Linked DNA regions of Homo sapiens: region 2 is linked to region 1. The links come from fine-mapping of genetic effects on gene expression. A gene starts in region 1. The other region holds a variant in brackets. All regions are shown on one strand. Distances are from middle to middle.

Region 1 (9,359 bases):
TCCACCTGTGAACCTGTGGTAGCCCCTCTCTGAGTTTGCTGCAAGGGCCCAGTGAGCTTGCCATAATCAGACGCAGCAGACACGGGAAGCTCCTGCTCTGCCACCATGCAGGGATGGAAAATCTGTCCACTGGAATCCAGGGGAAGGGATGGAAGAGGAAGAAAAACAAGCTTGGAGCAGTCCAACCCAGCTAGGGCCCTCCATTCCCTCAGGGACACCCCACACCCACCCCACACACTGGGATGAACCCTTGCAGAGGAACAATTCAGATGGTCACACATTCCAGGACCCAAATCCGTAAACACAAAGCATGTCCGTCAGTGCCAGCACCTCCCCCCGGCGAATCAAGCAGCTGTCCCAGAGGGCAAAGGGTCTCTGCAGCCATCTGCTTTCATCAGGGCTGCAGCCCCCAGGCAGCAGTACTGGGAGCCCCTCTCATCTCCGAGAATAAACTCTGAAGCCAGCGACCCTGCGGACCTGAATCATCAGGGAGCCTGTCAGAGGAGGGGCAGTGACTCTGCGGGACAAGCAAGCAGGCTATATAAGTTTCAGAAGGCTGGGCTCCACTCAGATCTTTTCCAGCAGCTGCTGCCTGCCAGAGAGGCGCCTTCAGAGACCCAGCGCTTACACAATACCCACCATGTCCCAGGTAGGAGGACCCAGCAAGGGCTGTGTTGATGCCAGAGGGAGTGGAGGTGGAGTCCTGGACACTTTCGGCTCTGGCAGCTGTGTCTTGATCTGAGCCCCAAGCATGAACTGGAGGCTCTGCAGCCCTTGGGAGATGGGGGCTCAGGGAGGACCCCCTGAAGAACCCCTCTTCTATGTGGCTTTGGTGGTATTCCACGGTTTGTTAGGAGGAGTGGAGAGAAATGTTGGGGGTGGGGGGGGCCTAGATAGATCTTTGCATGTGCCTGTGTGTGTGTGTGTGTGTGTGCGCATCTGTGTGTGTGCTGCCGATATAGCTCAGTGTGTAGAGCTTTGTGCATTTGTAGCTATGGGCCCGGCAGCCATGCACTCTGTGTGTGGCCACACACATAGGTCTGTCTGTCTCTGTGTATGGTATATGCATGAAGCTGTATGTGTGTGCACATGAGGCTGGAGGGACACAGCTGGATGCATCGCTGTACAGGGGTATAGTGTGTTGCTCTGAGGAGCCTGGCCCAGGCTGAGCGAGGAAATACCTGCACCTGCACCCAAGCACAGGCAGGTCTCAGACTCACAGGCGCCTGGGGTTGAGGGGTAGGGTAAACACCGAGCCTGGGTGTCCCCCACCCTGGAGGGACAGACCAGCCTGCCAAGAGAGAGGACTGTCCTTGCTGCCTGCTCTGTGGGTGGGTGGCCATTTTGGACTGTAATTCTGTGGGCATCTGGCCCTTCTACCCCATTTCCAGCCCCAAAGACACAAAGTAAATAGTGGCGCTTTTCTGGAAGGGGGCAATCCTTGAGGAACCGCTTGCCACCCAGTGAACAGGTTTTGGAACTAACCAAATTCCCTAGTATTGCCCAACCTCAGAGCTAGTCCCCTTCGCTGTTCCCCACTGTGCCCAGTCCTGAGCTTGACCAGGTAGCCAGACACGCCAGTGTGAGGCTGCAGCAGCCACTGCTCCCAAGAGCTCCCAGGCTATAGGGGAAAGGCACATGGGCAAGTCAGACCAAGACAGCTGGGAGACCTGCAGCAGGTGGAGTATAGTTGGGAAGGCTTTCTCTGGAAGAGGAGTAGAGCCTTGAATAGGCTTGGGTTTAATGAGCAGAGAAGAGGGGTCTTGGCCAAGGCACAGAGGTAGGTGTGCCTTTCTACCGAGGCTTCAGGTAGTAAGATGAGGCTCTTGGATCTCCAAGGCTGGTGCTCAGGAAGCCCCTATCAAGAAGAAGCGCCCCCCTGTGAAGGACGAGGACCTGAAGGGGGCCCGAGGAAACCTGACCAAGAACCAGGAAATCAAGTCCAAGACCTACCAGGTCATGCGAGAGTGTGGTGAGTGTCCTCATGCCATCTGGGGCTGGGGATGGGGGTGCAGGTGTGTGTCAGTGGTGGGGGGAGGTGGTCAAGGATCCTTTTCTGAGAATCCAGTATTCCTGGGTTCAAGAAAGGTGCTCCCATCGTAAGGGATCTTCCCTCCCAGGAAGCTAGGCTGGCCCCTGACTTTACCTCCTCCCACAGAGCAAGCTGGCTCGGCCGCCCCGTCGGTGTTCAGCCGCACCCGCACAGGTACCGAGACTGTCTTTGAGAAGCCCAAAGCCGGACCCACCAAGAGTGTCTTCGGCTGAGAAGTGTGCGCCACTCCCCTTGCTGCCCGAATGCTCGGAAACAGGAGCCTTTCCCAGGAACTCTTTTTTATGCCAGAACGCTTCCTCTCCCCTGCTGTCTCTGGGGCTGCCACCCTCCCCCACAGTCCAGGCCCTTCAGCCAAGGGCTCTGCACCAGCACCTTGGAAGCACCAATAAAGAGGATGCCCACGTGGCCCCAGCAATCAGAAGGTGTTGGTTGGTCCCTGGCTATGGCCACTATTGAGAGGGAGGACAGGGTGGGAACATGGAACATGTCCGTTTAAGAGGATCCCAGGGGATAGCACAGGTGCTATTATGGGCACTGCCACATGCTGCCTTGGACATGGAGACTCAGTGCTGACCTGTGACTTCAGACTTTTCTGAGCCTCAGTTTCCCCTTTTATACTACAGGGGAGTTGAGCTGGAGTCTATTCCATAAAGCAGGCCATGATGACACTGCTCAGAGTGAAGTGGGTGGGGTCTCAGGGACCACCTCTCCTCCTGCCTTCCACAGAAGCTGCTGAGAAGCCTCTGAGGACCTGCAGGCTCTGCAGCACCTAGGGACCTCAAAAACCCCTCTCCCTGCACTGCACTAGGGACCTCAAAACCCCTCTCCCTGCACTGCACTAGGGACCTCAAAACCCCTCTCCCTGCACTGCACTAGGGACCTCAAAACCCCTCTCCCTCCCTACACTTTTGTTCACACTGCCTCCTCCCGGCTTTTGTCCCCTCCAAGTCAGAGCCAGATTGAGATTCCTCTCTGGCAGTCAGTTTCCTGAGCTACCGTCTCTTCCAAACAGCAGGGGTAAGACTCCCACATTCTGCTCCAACCATGCTGTCTGGGGCATGGAACACCAGATTCTCAGCCTGCATGACCCTTCTCTCTCCAGTCCTCTGTCCCCTGTGTGCCTGGAAGTGCCAGGTTCAAAAGACCCATAGAGGCCTGTCCCGTTGTGATGGCAAGACCATGACCATGGACAGGCTGACAGTGGCTCTTTTCGGAGCTGGACTGGCAGAGCCTGGGCTTGTGGTGCCTGGCTCGGGGCTGATGCCTGCTGGGGATGCCTTCCTGTCCCAGGAGGTTCTGGCTGCCCAGAACGTTTCCCACAGTCCCGGCCAGCCTGGCCACCTTATATAGCCCTGAGTCCGGGCTGGGCCTGTGCTCTCTGCCCCAAGGGAGCAGCCCTGCTGTGAGGAAGGGCCCAGTCCTACTTGCTGGACTCCATGGGGAGACTCTTCCCCCAGACACTGAAAGGAGCGTGTTCCCCTGTGTAATCCCAATCGTATCCAGAGCCAAAAGGGTGAGCAGTGGAGACGTGCGCAGAGATGAGGCTTCTGGCCAGTCATGCTAAGGAAGGGGAACGTCTTCCTTGCAGCTGTAGAAATAGCTCCAGTCTATGGCACCTTTGCCCCAGGCCTGCCGCCACCTCTAATGGAGACAGGACTGGTGGAGAAACCCTCCCCAGCCTCTGGAAGCCACTGGCTGCCCCAAGGCCCCCGATAGGTTCCCAAGGCAGCTGGCCCCCTCAGGGCTGGTGTCACGGAGCCGCCGTCCTTCCCTGATCCAGGACTTGGCATCTGGCCACACTTTTATGACTCATCTTTACCCATCTGTGGCCACAGACTCAGGAGCTGGCTTCCCCAGAGCCACCAGGGAACACGAGCCCCAGCGGTGCCCAGAGCGCATAATATGTACTCACTCGATCCCACTTTACAAGGAGCAGAGCGCTTCAACTTTAGCAAGGCCGGGACCCACCCCAGGCCTTTGGGCAGCGCTCCCCTGGGTCTGGGCTGTGGCAGCATCACACTGCTCATGACAACAGCATTCTGCCCTCTCTCAACCAGCGATTCCTGGGCTCCCTCTGCTCCACCAAATGACTCCCCAGTCACCCCTCAGGAGCTGCTGGCACTGTCAGGTCTGTCTTCTGTTCCATGCTCTTCTGTCAATAAACTCCCCGCATGGAGACCTCTGTGCCACAGGATGTGGCAGGTTTATGACTCAGTTGTATTGCCATTCTTGTTTTGGGGGCCTTGCTGGGGTTGAACCTAAAGCCCTGGCTAGATTAATGGCACCCAAACAGCAACCTGGGACCCCAGGAGAGAGAAGGAGGCGCCCCGTGCCCAGCACCTCTCACTTCAGAAATACGGCGTATCTATCCTGACTCTAGATCTGCCCCACACAGACACCTCCCAGAGTCACTCCATGCCTTTGGGCCCTCCCATCAGCCAGACACACTTACCTGGTGGCCAAGCCCCCTTCTTCCGGGAAGCCGCTAGGGTAGCCCTGTAGCCCTAGTCTTCCCCACCATCCCCCGCTGTTTCTCCCCGGGCTGGACTTAGGGAGAGCAGACTGACATCTTCACTGTCAATTCCCTCCCAGCCCTGTGGAGCTTGGTGGAATGCCTGGTGTGAAGGGTCCTGGTGAAGGTTTCGCACTTTTCAGAAGGGGCATGTACCCCCACTCCAAACTGAGCCTACCTTTCTTTGGTATACATTCCTGCCCCCAGCCAAGGTCCATGGGACGTTCGTCATTTGCTTATCTGAGGTCACTGTGGTTTTTGGCTTGTAGATCCCAATTTCCCAGAACCTGCCCCCATGTGGGTGGGGCAGCAAACAAGTTACTAATCCATTCCCCACTTGCTGTCGAGTTCAGAAGCCTCCTGGCAGACACTGGAGCCACGATGAAGCCCCCAAGGCCTGTCCGTACCTGCAGCAAAGTTCTCGTCCTGCTTTCACTGCTGGCCATCCACCAGACTACTACTGCCGAAAAGGTAGCCAGTGTCCATGGGTGTGGCGTGAGCTGGGGGATGAGAGAACGCCTGGGAAGTGGGGAAGAGCCTCCGCATGTGCCAGCGTGTCAGCACAAGTGCGTGTGCATCCCTGTGTGTGCAAAAAAATGGTGCAGACCTCCCGCCAGGCACTACCCCAAGGGCCTTACTGGTATTCTCCCACCTAATAGAGGGGATGATCCAATCATTTCCATTTTCCAAATGAGGAAATACAGTTTTACAAGCCTGGCTCTACCGCCTTTTAGTAAGTGACCTCAGGAGAATGATTTATGCTGACTATGTCTCAATTTCCTCATCTGTAAAACAGGGTAATACTAGAACCTATTCAGAGGGTGGCGGTTGTGAAAACCAAACCCATTGTATCTATAAAGTGCTTAGGACAGTGCTTGTTGTGAAAACCAAACCCATTGTATCTATGAAGTGCTTAGGACAGTGCTTGTCGCAGAGCAAATACCCAAGCACATAAACAAGCCACTTGGCACCTCTGTGCCAAACTGCATTCAGGCAGCCGCATGCAGCCGAGCAGAGTTGGTGCAGTGCGCATGAGCATGTCACACACAAGCAGGTAAGAGGTGCCCGTGTGCCCCTCCTCGGGGGACACAGACCTCAAGGCAAATGGCACCTGCTAGGGGAGTGCCCTGCGGAAGTGGGGATGAGTTGGGGAGGGTCCACTGCGGAGCAGAGAGGAAGATTCCCAACTCTCAGAGACCAGACTCTAGTCTACCTCCGAATTCTCCCAGCTCTGAGGGCTTCCTTCTAGGAGACTGGTGGGAGCTTCCCTGTTGCCACAGAGGCCAAAGTCTCCAGAAATCAAAGGACCTGGTCACTGCCCTTTTTCTGGGCAAAGCTAAGCCAGCATGCAAAGCTCCCTGACCCCACCAGGTCTCTCACCCCTGCCCAAAGGCTGAGTGTGATGCCCCTCCCAGACACTGGCCCTGGCTTCACCAGCTCCACCCCCTGCATGCTTGTTCTTCTCCAAGGGGTGCTCTGGGCCCCTATAGATCAAGAAGGACGTGGCCCCTGCCCTGTGGTGCTGTAGGGTGGGGAATGAAGCACACTGCTATCTCTTACCTGAGACAAATGTTCACATATGAGATGCCTCACTGGGTTCAGCCTGAGGCCTGGTCAGTGGCTCAGTCAGATTGGGAGCCAGGGTTTGGTCTAGAGCCAGAGTCAGGGCCAACTCTTGAAGAGCGTCACCCCGAGCTGAGGTGGCATTGAAACCCTGCAACCCCCTTCTTCTTTGCTGGTCCAGAATGGCATCGACATCTACAGCCTCACCGTGGACTCCAGGGTCTCATCCCGATTTGCCCACACGGTCGTCACCAGCCGAGTGGTCAATAGGGCCAATACTGTGCAGGAGGCCACCTTCCAGATGGAGCTGCCCAAGAAAGCCTTCATCACCAACTTCTCCATGTAGGTGCCTTCCCACCCTCCTCCCCTCTCCACACCCCCCAGTGCTATGACTCCATCGCTCTGTGCCAGCAAACCCTCTTCTTGAAGTAAGGCATGCCAGGGTGTACATCTTCAGGAGTACACCCTGCACCTGGGGCCACACAGGAACAGGGGCTTGCCAAAGGACTTATTCTCAAAGATGCCCCCGTCCTTCCCTCCATCCAGCCATTCATCATCCCTAAGTGCTGTCCAGGTGTTAGGCAGAGAACCACAGAATCTTTGTGACTTTGCCTTTGAGGAGCACAGACTTGAGGCCTCCTGAGGCCAGACCAGGCAAGAGGGAGTCACCAAAATGCACATTCCAGCTCAAAGTACAGAAAACCTTCTAGACCCTTGGCTTCCTCACAGTGGAGAGTGGCTTGAGGAGGATTCTCCTAGGTCTGCCCCAGCTGGGATCCTGCAGAGGACATTTTTGCTCAGGCTGCGTGAGAGATGCCTGAGGTTTCTCTGAATTCTATGAGCCAAGGATGGTCCTCACTTTGTCCTCTGCCACCCTCCCCTACCCTTCCCAACTCAGTTTCCAATGTTTACTAAATGCACCAGGATGCCGCCTGTCCCTTGCTGCCAGGAAAAGCTGTGATTTAGGACAAGGGCAAGACTCTTCCCAGAAACAGGGCGATGGTGGGGCAGAGAGGGAGTGTCTCATGTGGGGTCCCACACTGTGGCCTCTGGAAAACTGCAGTGGGGGCTAGTCTCCTCCCTCAGGCGCCAAGCATCCCCCACTCCACCGCAGCCTCTACTTTTCCTAACCCAGAGCCCGGGCCTATGCTGCCCAGCTTGCAGTGCAAGCCCCACGGGCTGTGTCAGCCTTCGACATGGGTGCCAGGGTCAGCAGTTGCCAGGTCCAGGCCCGTGGCATCTGCTGAGAGCCCAAGACTGTCACTTGCCTTCTCTAGACCCAGAACCTGTTGCTGCATGAGTTAGGGGAGCAGAGAGCAGGTTCCCTGCTCCCTGACCTGGCCAGGAGCCCCAGCTGGCCATCTGGAGAGATGAAGCACTGCCTACCCAGGGGGAGGAGTGCCACTGCCCACTCACCAGCCCCATCCCGGGCTAGAGTTAAATTATAACCAGGAAGGTCAGGCAGGAGGGACGCGTAGTCCTGACATCCTGGCTGCTCCCCCTCCTGCCCACTGCCACACACTACCACATGAAGTTGACCAGGCACATCCCTACACACCCCACAAGGAGGCTCTGAAAAAGTCGTTTTCCTCCCTGAGAAATGGCCTGGGCCATTCTTTCTCAGCCCCCAAAGGATGGCTGCTAGGAGTGTGTCCACACACCCAGGAGTCCCGTCCACCAGTTGTCCAAAACCTCCTTCCAGATATGCCAGCCTCCCTATAGGGTGCCTGCCTCTTGTGGGAGGGAGCGGGGAGACTGCTGTAGGGGGAAAGTGCTCAGAGCCTCCAGCCCTACGTCTGCTTCCTCCTCAGTCCTGGCCCCACACGGCTGCACGCAGGGCTGGGAACAAGTGTGACTCAGAGAGCTCTTGCTGGTGATGAACTAGTTCCCCTGGAACAGTCCGTGAAATGGAAGGGGCAGGTGGGAATGTGGGCCAGCTTCGGCCAGACTGGACAGGTGGAGAGAAGGCAGGATTTAGCCCGGCCCTGCCCCTCTGCAGCCTCCCCTTCGTCCCTTCTATAAAATGAATGCTTACTGTTACTGTACACACCTCCGGGAGCTAGAGGCCTGGAGCACTTTGCAGAGTGCCCTGCACAGGGTCCTGTATGCGGTAGGTGCATAATAAATGGCACTGGGCTCAGGCAAAGATGGGAGTCACTGTGTCAAGAGGCACACCGAGTCCAGAAAGGCTCTCTGGAGGAGGCAGGAGTGGAATGGGCCCCTGCCACCAGGCTCTCAACAACTCCCACCCTTCTGCCCCCAGGATCATCGATGGCATGACCTACCCAGGGATCATCAAGGAGAAGGCTGAAGCCCAGGCACAGTACAGCGCAGCAGTGGCCAAGGGAAAGAGCGCTGGCCTCGTCAAGTGAGCTGGTGGGGGGCAGCTTCAGTGGGGAGGGTCTAGACAAAGGCCACCTTGCCTTTGGCCCTTAGTCCTGCTCCCACCTCTACCAGCCTTACCCCACCTGTCCTGGAGGAGCAGGCCTGATGCCCTTCTCCCCCAGGGCCACCGGGAGAAACATGGAGCAGTTCCAGGTGTCGGTCAGTGTGGCTCCCAATGCCAAGATCACCTTTGAGCTGGTCTATGAGGAGCTGCTCAAGCGGCGTTTGGGGGTGTACGAGCTGCTGCTGAAAGTGCGGCCCCAGCAGCTGGTCAAGCACCTGCAGGTACCTGCTGCTACCTCTTCCAGGGAGGCCTCCTGCATGACCCTTGCCCTGCTGAGGGCGGCCCCTCTTTGTCCCTGAGCCTCCTGTGAGCCCCAGCCCAGGCTCCTGGCTGACCCAGGGACCCACATCTTGCCTCCAGATGGACATTCACATCTTCGAGCCCCAGGGCATCAGCTTTCTGGAGACAGAGAGCACCTTCATGACCAACCAGCTGGTAGACGCCCTCACCACCTGGCAGAATAAGACCAAGGTGGGCCTGTTGTGGTCAGCAGGTGAGGGTACCAAGGGCCCTGCCTTCAGGCCAGCCCTATGAGCCCGGATTTCTGGAAAGCAGGATGGGCTCTCCCTCCTGTGAGCTGTGACCTGGAGAGGCTCCTGAGATCTCTGCATCCTTGCTGTCATTTGGCAGATGGGGAGGGCAAAGCCTAGAGAAGGACCATGGCGTCCTCGTATGAGCCCTGAGATCTGTCTGGGAAGGGGCTGGATAATAGACTGATGTGAGGGTCCTGGGGCCAGGTGGAGAGAAGGAGATGGTTGGATGGCACACATCCTGGAATAGCC
Region 2 (9,359 bases), 170 kb before region 1:
GGCTGTTTTGAAAATTCCTGCTTCAAGTTTAAGCAGGCTGGTGCTGAGCAGGTGTTGAGTTTGTGGGCTCTTGAGCCCAATGACTGTAGGGTTTTGGATGGTAGTCAGTGGCCTTGGACTGTGAGTTTAGCACCCTCAAGACAGACTTCCAACTTTTGCTCGTTATTCATTACAGTTCACTGTGGCAGGTGTTCAGTGAGCACTTAGTTTATTCAAATTAAACTGAGGAGAATACCTCCTAACTAGAGAATACTGAAGTTATTATAATTTGAAATAATAACTTTGGGCCTGGATAGTTTTGCTTATTTGTTAATTCAAGATACTGGGCTGGGTGATTTCTTTTTTTTTTTTTTTTTTTATTGAGACGGAGTCTCGCTCTGTCACCCAGGCTGGAGTGCAGTGGTGCGATCTTGGCTCACTGCAAGCTTCGCCTCCCGGGTTCACGCCATTCTCCTGCCTCAGCCTCCCAAGTAGCTGGGACTACAGGTGCCCGCCACCACGCCCGGCTAATTTTTTGTATTTTTAGTAGAGACAGGTTTCGCCGTGTTAGCCAGGATGGTCTCGATCTCCTAACCCCGTGATCCACCTGCCTCGGCCTCCCAAAGTGCTGGGATTACAGGCGTGAGCCACTGCGGCCAACTGGGCTGGATGATTTCTAAGCTCTCTTGCTTTTGTTATAATTCAGAAATGGCACAATATGTAGTACACATATTTGAACTTCTAATAGGAAAAGCTGAACAACTCCATAGAAAACAAAGTTCAAAACAGGCAGTAATCTTTCATTTATGTGTGTGTGTGTGTGTGTGTGTGTGTGTGTGTGTGTGTGTGTGTGTGAGAGACTGGGTCTTGCTCTGTTGCCCAGGCCGGAATGCGGTGGCAGGATCAGTGCTCACTGCAGCCTTGACCTCCTGGGCCTACATATCCTCCAGCCTCAGCCTCCCAGGTAGTTGGGACCACAGTCATGAGCCACCATGCCTGGCAAATTTTTTACAATTTTTTTTTTTTTTGGTAGAGATAGGATCTCCCATTTCCCTATGTTGTCCAGGCTGGTCTCAAACTCCTGGGCTCAAGTGGTCCTCCTGCTTTGTTTGGCCTTCTAAAGTGCTAAAATTTACAGGCGCGGCCACTGTGCCTGGCTTTTTCTACACTTGTTTCTTTCCTTAGCTAGAGCTATTAGAAATGAAGAGCTGCTTGCTGGTGGGAGCACAGTAAATGTGAGCTGCCATCTACTTACTACTGGATCCAAGATGCTTGAAAGCAAAACTCTTCTGTTCAGGGATGACCTGAGGATGTAAGAATAATTAAGAGTGATGGAACTTTTTCTTTTTTGAAGAGTTGGAGTCTCACTCTGTCATGCAAGCTAAAGTGACACACGATCATGGCTCACTGCAGCCTTGAACTCCTGAGCTCAAGCAGTCCTTCTGTCTCAGTCTCTCTAGTAGCTAGGACTGCAGATGTGAATCACCACACCTAGCTAACTAAAAGAAAATCTTTTTTTAAGAGACAGGGTCTCACTATGTTGCCCAGGCTGAAAGAACTTTAATATTTATGTGTACTTGTTTATGTAGTGTAGAACCTTCCCTCCCATGTTGATATTATTAATTTGGGAAAGAAAGGGGGTCGATGACCACTTGTAAAGAATTGTGCCCTTGGAATTTTGTGTGGTTCTTTTTTGTTTTTGACTTGTTAGGGAGAATGTCAAACATATATAAAAGTAGACTAAACAGTGAGATGAACATCCAAATATCCATTATTCAAAGATTGCTTCTGTAATAAACTCACAGCCAATGCGGTTTCATCTGTACCCACACCCCTTTCTTCTTTTCATATATTTTTTTTCATTTTAAGCATTTGCAATAACTTATTTACCTAACCACCTATTGGTAGATATTTGAGTATTAAACCATTAAAAAATTTTTGTAATTAATACCCTTTCTTGCTTTGTGGTCTTGTGTGAGTTTTTTAAAGATAAATTCCTAGAAGGGGTGTTGGGTCAAAGGACATGCATTAGGCATGTTTTAGTTTTTGTAAATTTCTTCCAATTTTGAGATGTCATCACATTGCTTTCCAACAAACCTGTACTAATTTACGTTTTTGCTGAGTTCTCACTTTGTCTTTCACCTAGAATCACTGTTTGCTTTCTCTCTTTGTCTTTTATATATGTGTATATATGTAATATATGTATATATAGGCATATATATGTATTTATATAGTCCCCTGTGAAACATTTGAGGCTCTATTGCAGACATTATAACTCAGTACTCTTAATACTTTAATGTACATCTCTAAGAATAAGACATTTTCCTAATGTAATTGTGTGATCACAATACAGTGACCACACTTTTAAAACTTAAAAAAATTCCAAATATCAGTTTGTTTTATTGGTAAATATTTTAGTGTGCCAGACATTAAGTCCTCTTTGTTGTTGTTGAAACATAAACAAAATACTGTTTTTTTAATGCTTTCAAAGAGGAAGGCATTGCAAAAAAAAAAAAAAGTGGCTTAAGAGAAAAAACATTACAAAGGGAGGAATAAAACCGAAGTGTCGTGTATGCTTAAAGCAGTGAGTAAATAAAAACCTAAAAAAATGTAAGAGTAGGCTGGGTGCGGTGGCTCACGCCTGTAATCCCAGCACTTTGGGAGGCCGGGGTGGGCGGATCACGAGGTCAGGAAATCAAGACCATCCTGGCTAACACGGTGAAACCCTGTCTCTACTAAAAATACAAAAAATTAGCCGGGCTGATGTGGTGGCACATGCCTGTAGTCCCAACTACTCATGAGGCTGAGGCAGGAGAATTGCTTGAACCCGGGAGGCAGAGGTTGCAGTGAGCCGAGATTGTGCCACTGCATTCCAGCCTGGGCGACAGAGCGATACTCTGTCTCCAAAAAAAAAGCAAAAACTTCAAGATGATTTCATGCCATGGGTCATGGGGTCTCCTTGCTTGGTCTGTAGAGCTTGGGGGGCCCATCAGGGAGAGGAATGGGCACTCATTGTGCCTCCTACCCTGCTGCTTGGGTGGAAACATAACATGGCACAGGATGAGTGGGGGCTCACCCTGCTCAGGGAGTCATGGCAAGTGGCCACTCATGTGGCCCACTCCCCTCATGACCTTTGGCCAGTGACATCCACAGCAGTGGTTAGGGGCAAGGACACGAACTCCTGTCTTCTGGAGCGTTTGAACATAGCATCAGGGTGTGGCTTCCCCTCTGGAAGCTGAAGGGATACACCAAAAGAGCACTGGCCAAGGCTTTTTGCCTCCCCTGCGATGTCCCGAGCTCCTTGACTACCCCAACGCAATCCGGAAGCAGCTCTCTCAGAATCCAGCCTCCCTGCCCCACCCTGGAATGCAGGGCCAGGTCCAGGACTTGCTGTGGCGCGTGGGTGGCTCCTCCCCGCAGGCCTGGTCAGAGGAGGTGGGGCGTCGGCTCCTTTCCCAGCCTTCAGGCCGGTGTCCACGGCTGTGCTTGGCCTCCTTCACGTAGGGTTCCAGGAGCCCTTGGTGGTCTGCTTATCCACCTTCACCCCGGGAACGCCTTGACCCAGCAGCCAGTCGTGAGGTCCTTGGGCTGCCCGGCTGGCCCTTGCACCAGAACAGGCCGCTGTTGGCGAAGGCCTGGATCTCCATGACGGCCTTTGTACTGGGCCCTTGATCAGCAGACGCCGGCGCAGGCCTTGGGTGAAGAGCATGTCCTCGGGCGTCCCCGGCTTACGCATGGATGACAAGGGGTAAGAGGAGATGGAGGGGCCGAGGGCGGCTCACAGTAGAGCCAGTTTAGTACCCAGCTCGCGCACCAGCTGAATGCTCCCTCCATGGTGGTCGGTGGCCGGCAGGGCAGCTCTGCGGGTGCCAGCCCATCAACAGCCAGGCGATCAACAGCTAGGCGAGCAGCGCTGCACAGCCGTCACCCCGCAGGCCCTTGCAGTGGTAGCTGAAGACGTTGTGGGCCAGTCAGGTCGATCGGCAGCACCAGCTCCCCAGGGTTGAGGGACAGGGCTGGCCCCCTGTTGATACGCCCACAGGACCCGGGAGATCACAAGCTCGTTGGGGTTCTTTCTGAACTGCCGAGATGGCGAGGAGCAGAACCAGCGTGGCACGAGCAGAACCAGTCCATTGGCCCAGGTGGGTGGGCGCTGGCGCTTTCTTAGCCATGGCTGCAGTCACCCCTAGGTAGGAAACAGCAGAGACCCTGGAGGGACCCTG[C/T]GAGGGCGAGAGCTATGGCTGGGCCCTTCAGCACCTAGGGGAACCACCATGATGGGGGCATGGTGGGTGGTCCTCAGCTTGAAGCTGCACCCAGCCTTTACTTTCTCCAATGCGTCAGCAAAATAATATTATTGATCTACATTTTTTCTTTTCTTTTCTTTTTTTTGAGACGGAGTCTCTCTCTGTCACCCAGGCTAGAGTGCAGTGGCGCGATCTCGGCTCACCGCAAGCTTCACCTCCTGGGTTCATGCCATTCTCCTGCCTCAGCCTCCGGAGTAGCTGGGACTACAGGCGCCCGCCACCACGCCCGGCAAATTTTTTGTATTTTTAGTAGAGACGGGGTTTCTCCGTGTTGGCCTCGTGATCTGCCCGTCTTGGCCTCCCAAAGTGCTGGGATTACAGGCGTGAGCCACCGTGCCCGACCTGATCTACATTTTTTCTTATGAACACTAGAATTTATGCAGAGCTCAGTTCCCATTGTTATACATGCTGTAATTTAAAAAATTTTCTTGTACAACATTGTGAATGTCCTTAATGCCACAGAACTATACATCTAAGGTGATTAGAATGGTAAATTTTATGTGTATTTTACAATAACAAAAATAAATTTAAAAAATATTGTTTAAAGGATCCAATTGACCAACACGTTGTGTTATCTTCTCTCTTTTTTTAAACAATGTTTTATTGAAGCATGTTTTATATTGTAAGTGACCTACTTGATGAATTTTAGTAATTGTATAGAGTTATGCAACCATCATCACCATTTAGTTTTAGAACATTTTATTACCCCCAAAATGTGGTCATTTACAGACAATGCATCCTGATTCTGGGAAACCACTGATGTATTTTCTATACAATTTTGCCTTTTCTAGAAATTTCACATAAATAGAATCATCCAATATGTAGTCTTTTGTGTCTGGCATGTTTCATATAGCATGAAGTTTTTGAGATTTATCCTTGTTATTGCATGTATCAGTAGTTTGTTTTTATTGCTGAGAATAATTCCTTTTCTTTTTTTTTTTGAGATGGACTCTCGCTCTGTCACCCAGGCTGGAGTGCAGTGGCATGATCTCGGCTCACTACAAGCTCCGCCTTCTGGGTTCACGCCATTCTCCTGCCTCAGCCTCCCGAGTAGCTGGGACTACAGGTGCCTGCCACCACATCAGACTAATTTTTTGTGTTTTTAGTAGAGACGGGTTTCACAGTGTTAGCCAGGATGGTACCGATCTCCTGACCTCGTGATCCGCCCCCCTCGGCCTCCCAAAGTGCTGGGAGAATAATTCCATTGTATAAATAGGTAAAACGTTTTGTTTATCCATTCACTAGTTGATGGACATTTGGGTTATTTCTAGTTCTTGGCAGTGAACACAAGTAAAGTCTTTGTGTGGCTGTTTTCATTTCTTTTTGGTGATCCTCAAGAGTGGAATTGCTTGGTTGTATGATAAGTCTATGTTTAGCTTTTTTTTTGTTTTTGTTTTTGTTTTTTTTTGAGACTGAGTCTCGCTCAGTCGCCCAGGCTGGAGTGCAGTGGTGCGATCTCGGCTCACTGCAGGCTCCGCCTCCCAGGTTCAAGCTATTCTTCTGCCTCAGCCTCCGGAGTAGCTGGGACTGCAGGCGACCGCCACTACGCCCGGCTAATTTTTTGTATTTTTAGTAGAGATGGGGTTTCACCGTTTTAGCCAGGATGGTCTCAATCTCCTGACCTCATGATCTGCCCATCTCTGCCTCCCAAAGTGCTGGGATTACAGGCGTGAGCCACCGTGCCCGGCCTGTGTTTAGCTTTTTAAGAAATTGCCAAACCATTTTCAAAGTGGCTGTACCATTTTTACATTTGCACCAGCATTGTATGAGGACTCACTTCTCCATCCTTATTAAATTTCCTATTGTTCGTATTTTAGCCATTTTAGTTGGTGTGTAATGATACTTCATAGTGGTTTTAATTTGTATTTCCCTAGTGACTAATTATCTTTTCATGTGCTTGCCATTCATATATTTTCTTTGCTGAAGTACCTATTCAAATCTTTTGATTGAAAAATTGGATTATTGTCCGGGTGTGGTGCCTCATGCCTATAATCCTAGCATTTGGGAGGCTGAGGTGGGCAGATCGCTTGAGCTCAGGAACTCGAGACCAGCCTGGGTAATAGGTGAAACTCTGTCTCTACTAAAAAAATACAAAAATTAGCTGGGTGTGGTGGCGTGCGCCTGTAGTCCCAGCTACTTGGCAGGTCTGAGGCAGGAGGATCACTTGAACCCAGGAGGTTGAGGCTGCAGTGAGCCAAGATGGTGCTACTGCACTGCAGCCCAGTGACCAGAGGGAGACCCTGTCTCAAAAAAAAAAAAAAAAAAAAAAAGGATTGTTTATTTTTAAGAGCTTTTTGATATAAATCCATATTAGGTATATGTTTTGCAAAAAAATTTCTTTTTAAGCCTCTGGCTTGTCTTTTTTCTTCATTGTGTCTTTGAAGAGCAAAAGTTTTGTTTTTTTTTGAGATGGAGTCTCACCCTGTTGCCCAGGCTAGAGTGTAGTGGTGTGATCTTGGCTCACTGCAACCTCCGCCTCCCGGGTTCAAGTGATTCTTCTGCCTCAGCCTCCTAAGTAACTGGGACTACAGGCACATACCACTGTCCTGGCTAATTTTTGTATTTTTAGTAGAGACGGGGTTTCACCATGTTGGCCAGGCTGGTCTCGAACTCCTGACCTGAGGTGATCCACCCGCCTCAGCCTCCCAAAGTGCTAAGATTATAGGCGTGAGCTGGGGGGTGGCACCTGGCCTGAAGAGCAAACGTTTTAAACTTTGATACAGTCCCAATTTATTGTTTGTGCTTTTTCTGGTGTCATGTTTTAAAGTTATTTGCCAGGCTGGGTGCAATAGCTCACACTTGTAATCCCAGCACTTTGGGAGGCTGAGGCAGAAGGATCACTTGAGTTTAGGAGTTTGAGACCAGCCTGGCAGCATAGTGAGACCACTTCGACCACTTCTCTACAAAACATAAACAAAGTTAGCAAGGCATGGTGGCATATGCCTGTAGTCCTAGCTACTTGGTAGGCTGAGAATGGGAGGATTATTTGAGCCCAGGAGGTCAAGGCTGCAGTGAGCAGTGATCGTGCCCATTGCATTCCAAACTTGGCGACAGAGCAAGACCCTGCCTCAAAATAAAAATAAAAATTCTTTGCCAGTCCAAGCTCAGAAAGATTTTCTATTTTCTTTTTCTGGATATTAAAAAATATTGGCTCTTACATTTAGGTTTATGGTCCATTTTGAGTTTTTATGTATGGTATGAGGTAAGGTTGAGGTTCATTTTTGTCCATGTGGATATCCAGTTGTTTCTGTACCATTTGTTGAAAATACTATCCTTTTTCCATTTCCATTGAATTACCTTTGGCATCTTTGGATCTTTTAGTCTGTGAATATCGTATGCCTCTCCATTTATTTAGGTATTTTTTTAGTTAACTAAGCCATATTTTCCAGTTTCAGTGTACAGGCTTTTCTTTTCCTTTTCTTTCCTTTTCCTTTTTTTTTTCTTGCTTTCTTTTCTTTCTTTCTTTCTTTCTTGATGCTACAGTGAATAGATTTTTTTCAAATTGTTTTTAAAATTTCATTTTAAATCTCTTTTAACCTATAGTGTCCTTTTCAATTTCTTGCTCTTTTTTTCTTTCCAATTTGTTTGATAAAACCAGGTAGTTTGTCTTAATGGTGTTTTCCAGAGTTTGATTTTGCTGATTGGCTCACCATTGTGGTGGTTAACATGTTCCTCTAGGCGGGGCGTAGTGGCTCATGCCTGTAATCCCAGCACTTTGGGAAGCCAAGGTGGGCAGATCACCTGAGGTCGGGAGTTTGAGACCAGCCCGGCCAACACAGTGAAACCCCATCTCTACTAAAAATATAAAAATTAGCTGGGCGTGATGGTGCACACCTGTAATCCCAGCTACTTGGGAGGCTGAGGCCAGAGAATTGCTTGAATCCAGGAGGCGGAGATTGTGGTGAGCCAAGATGGCCCCACTGCATTCCAGCCTGGGCCACAGAGCGAGACTCCGTCTCAAAAAACAAACAAACATGTTCCTCTAACTTCTCTGTGGTGTTTAGAAGCTCAATCAGATTCAAGTTTGATTTTTTTTTTTGAAAGATAGTTCAATAGTTGGTGTTGTGTTCTTCCATTAAGAGGCACATGATGTTTCAGGTTGTCTCTTGTGATTGATGTGTCTCTGTTATTGATGGTCAACACCTAGGTCCAGTAATTTAATAAGAGAGTCTGTCATTCCTTCATCATTTATTAGCTGGAATACTTTTATAAAAAGAAACTTGTCCTTATCTTCTGTTTTGTGACCAGATGGCACAGTTGTGTGTGATCTCTTTAGTTACAAATGCAATGACTTTGTTAACAAGTAGGTATTTTTTCTAATGCATTATTTCCCAGTTGAATTGGCAAACAGTTTGAACTTATTAACAGGTTGAGGATTTGTCTGTTGTTGTTTTCCTCTGCAGTAATGGCTTATGAATAAACCCTTCTGTTGGAAACTGTATGAAAGTGTTCTACTTGTATTATAAAGATGTGCTTTACAGTCATAGACTGTATATATCCTGAATTACTACTTTATAAGAGCCAATTACAGTTTCGACCTTTTCCCAGTGTATTATTTTGTAATGAGTATATAATAATTGGTTGCTTTTTTTTAGCTTTGACTTACGATGCTTCTGTCTCTTACACTGTTTTATTGTTATAAAAGGATTTTCTGTTCTTTCCTTGATCTTGTGTATAAATAAGAAAAGTTACAAAATTGACATAAATTATATTGAGCGCTTGCTATTTTACTGTTATTTTTTTCTTTTGTATCTTAACTCTTTTCACAATTTTTGTATGGGATTTTTTTCCCCTTTTTTTTGGCTGTCAGTGCATCTGTTTTAAATACTGTCACAGTAACTTTGTAGTGTTTCTACATAGTTGTACCTCCTACTAGGAGTTATATGTAGCAGATGCTTAGCATGGTCAGGGCCAAGTGAATGAATGGGGTCGGGGATAGGGAAGGTTGGTATACTAATTGATTAGCCTAGAATTATCCCTTAAAGGTATAGAAATTTACTGCTAGCACATAAAGATTATGTGTTTTATAAAGTAACTGCTGCGAATATAGCAGGCATTTAAACAGTATAGCAGAAC

The links. PIP is the estimated chance that this variant, and not a neighbour inherited with it, causes the effect. A credible set is the group of variants that fine-mapping cannot tell apart.
Region 2: its variant is the best candidate, but not a certain one, in a credible set for the expression of ITIH4 in tibial nerve (GTEx, PIP 0.57).

Annotation. Positions count from the first base shown.
Region 1 is chr3:52,826,230-52,835,588 of GRCh38, reverse strand. It overlaps ITIH4 (inter-alpha-trypsin inhibitor heavy chain 4), which reads left to right and starts at 4,917. Exons shown (of 24, transcript NM_002218.5): 1 at 4,917-5,036; 2 at 6,310-6,470; 3 at 8,392-8,496; 4 at 8,636-8,798; 5 at 8,938-9,048. The coding sequence starts at 4,947. It overlaps STIMATE-MUSTN1 (STIMATE-MUSTN1 readthrough), which reads left to right. Exons shown (of 10, transcript NM_001198974.3): 9 at 1,840-1,972; 10 at 2,159-2,468. The coding sequence ends at 2,265. MUSTN1 (musculoskeletal, embryonic nuclear protein 1) reads left to right here and starts at 570. Exons shown (of 3, transcript NM_205853.4): 1 at 570-649; 2 at 1,840-1,972; 3 at 2,159-2,468. The coding sequence starts at 641. The coding sequence ends at 2,265. RefSeq lists enhancers at 6,957-7,564, 7,565-8,173.
Region 2 is chr3:52,993,401-53,002,759 of GRCh38, reverse strand. The region is part of intron 1 of SFMBT1 (Scm like with four mbt domains 1); the gene reads left to right. Among named protein-coding and RNA genes, the nearest start is that of SFMBT1, 48 kb to the left of the region's middle. RefSeq lists a silencer at 2,610-2,853 and an enhancer at 3,736-4,236. The variant C/T (reference allele first, on the strand shown) is at 4,203.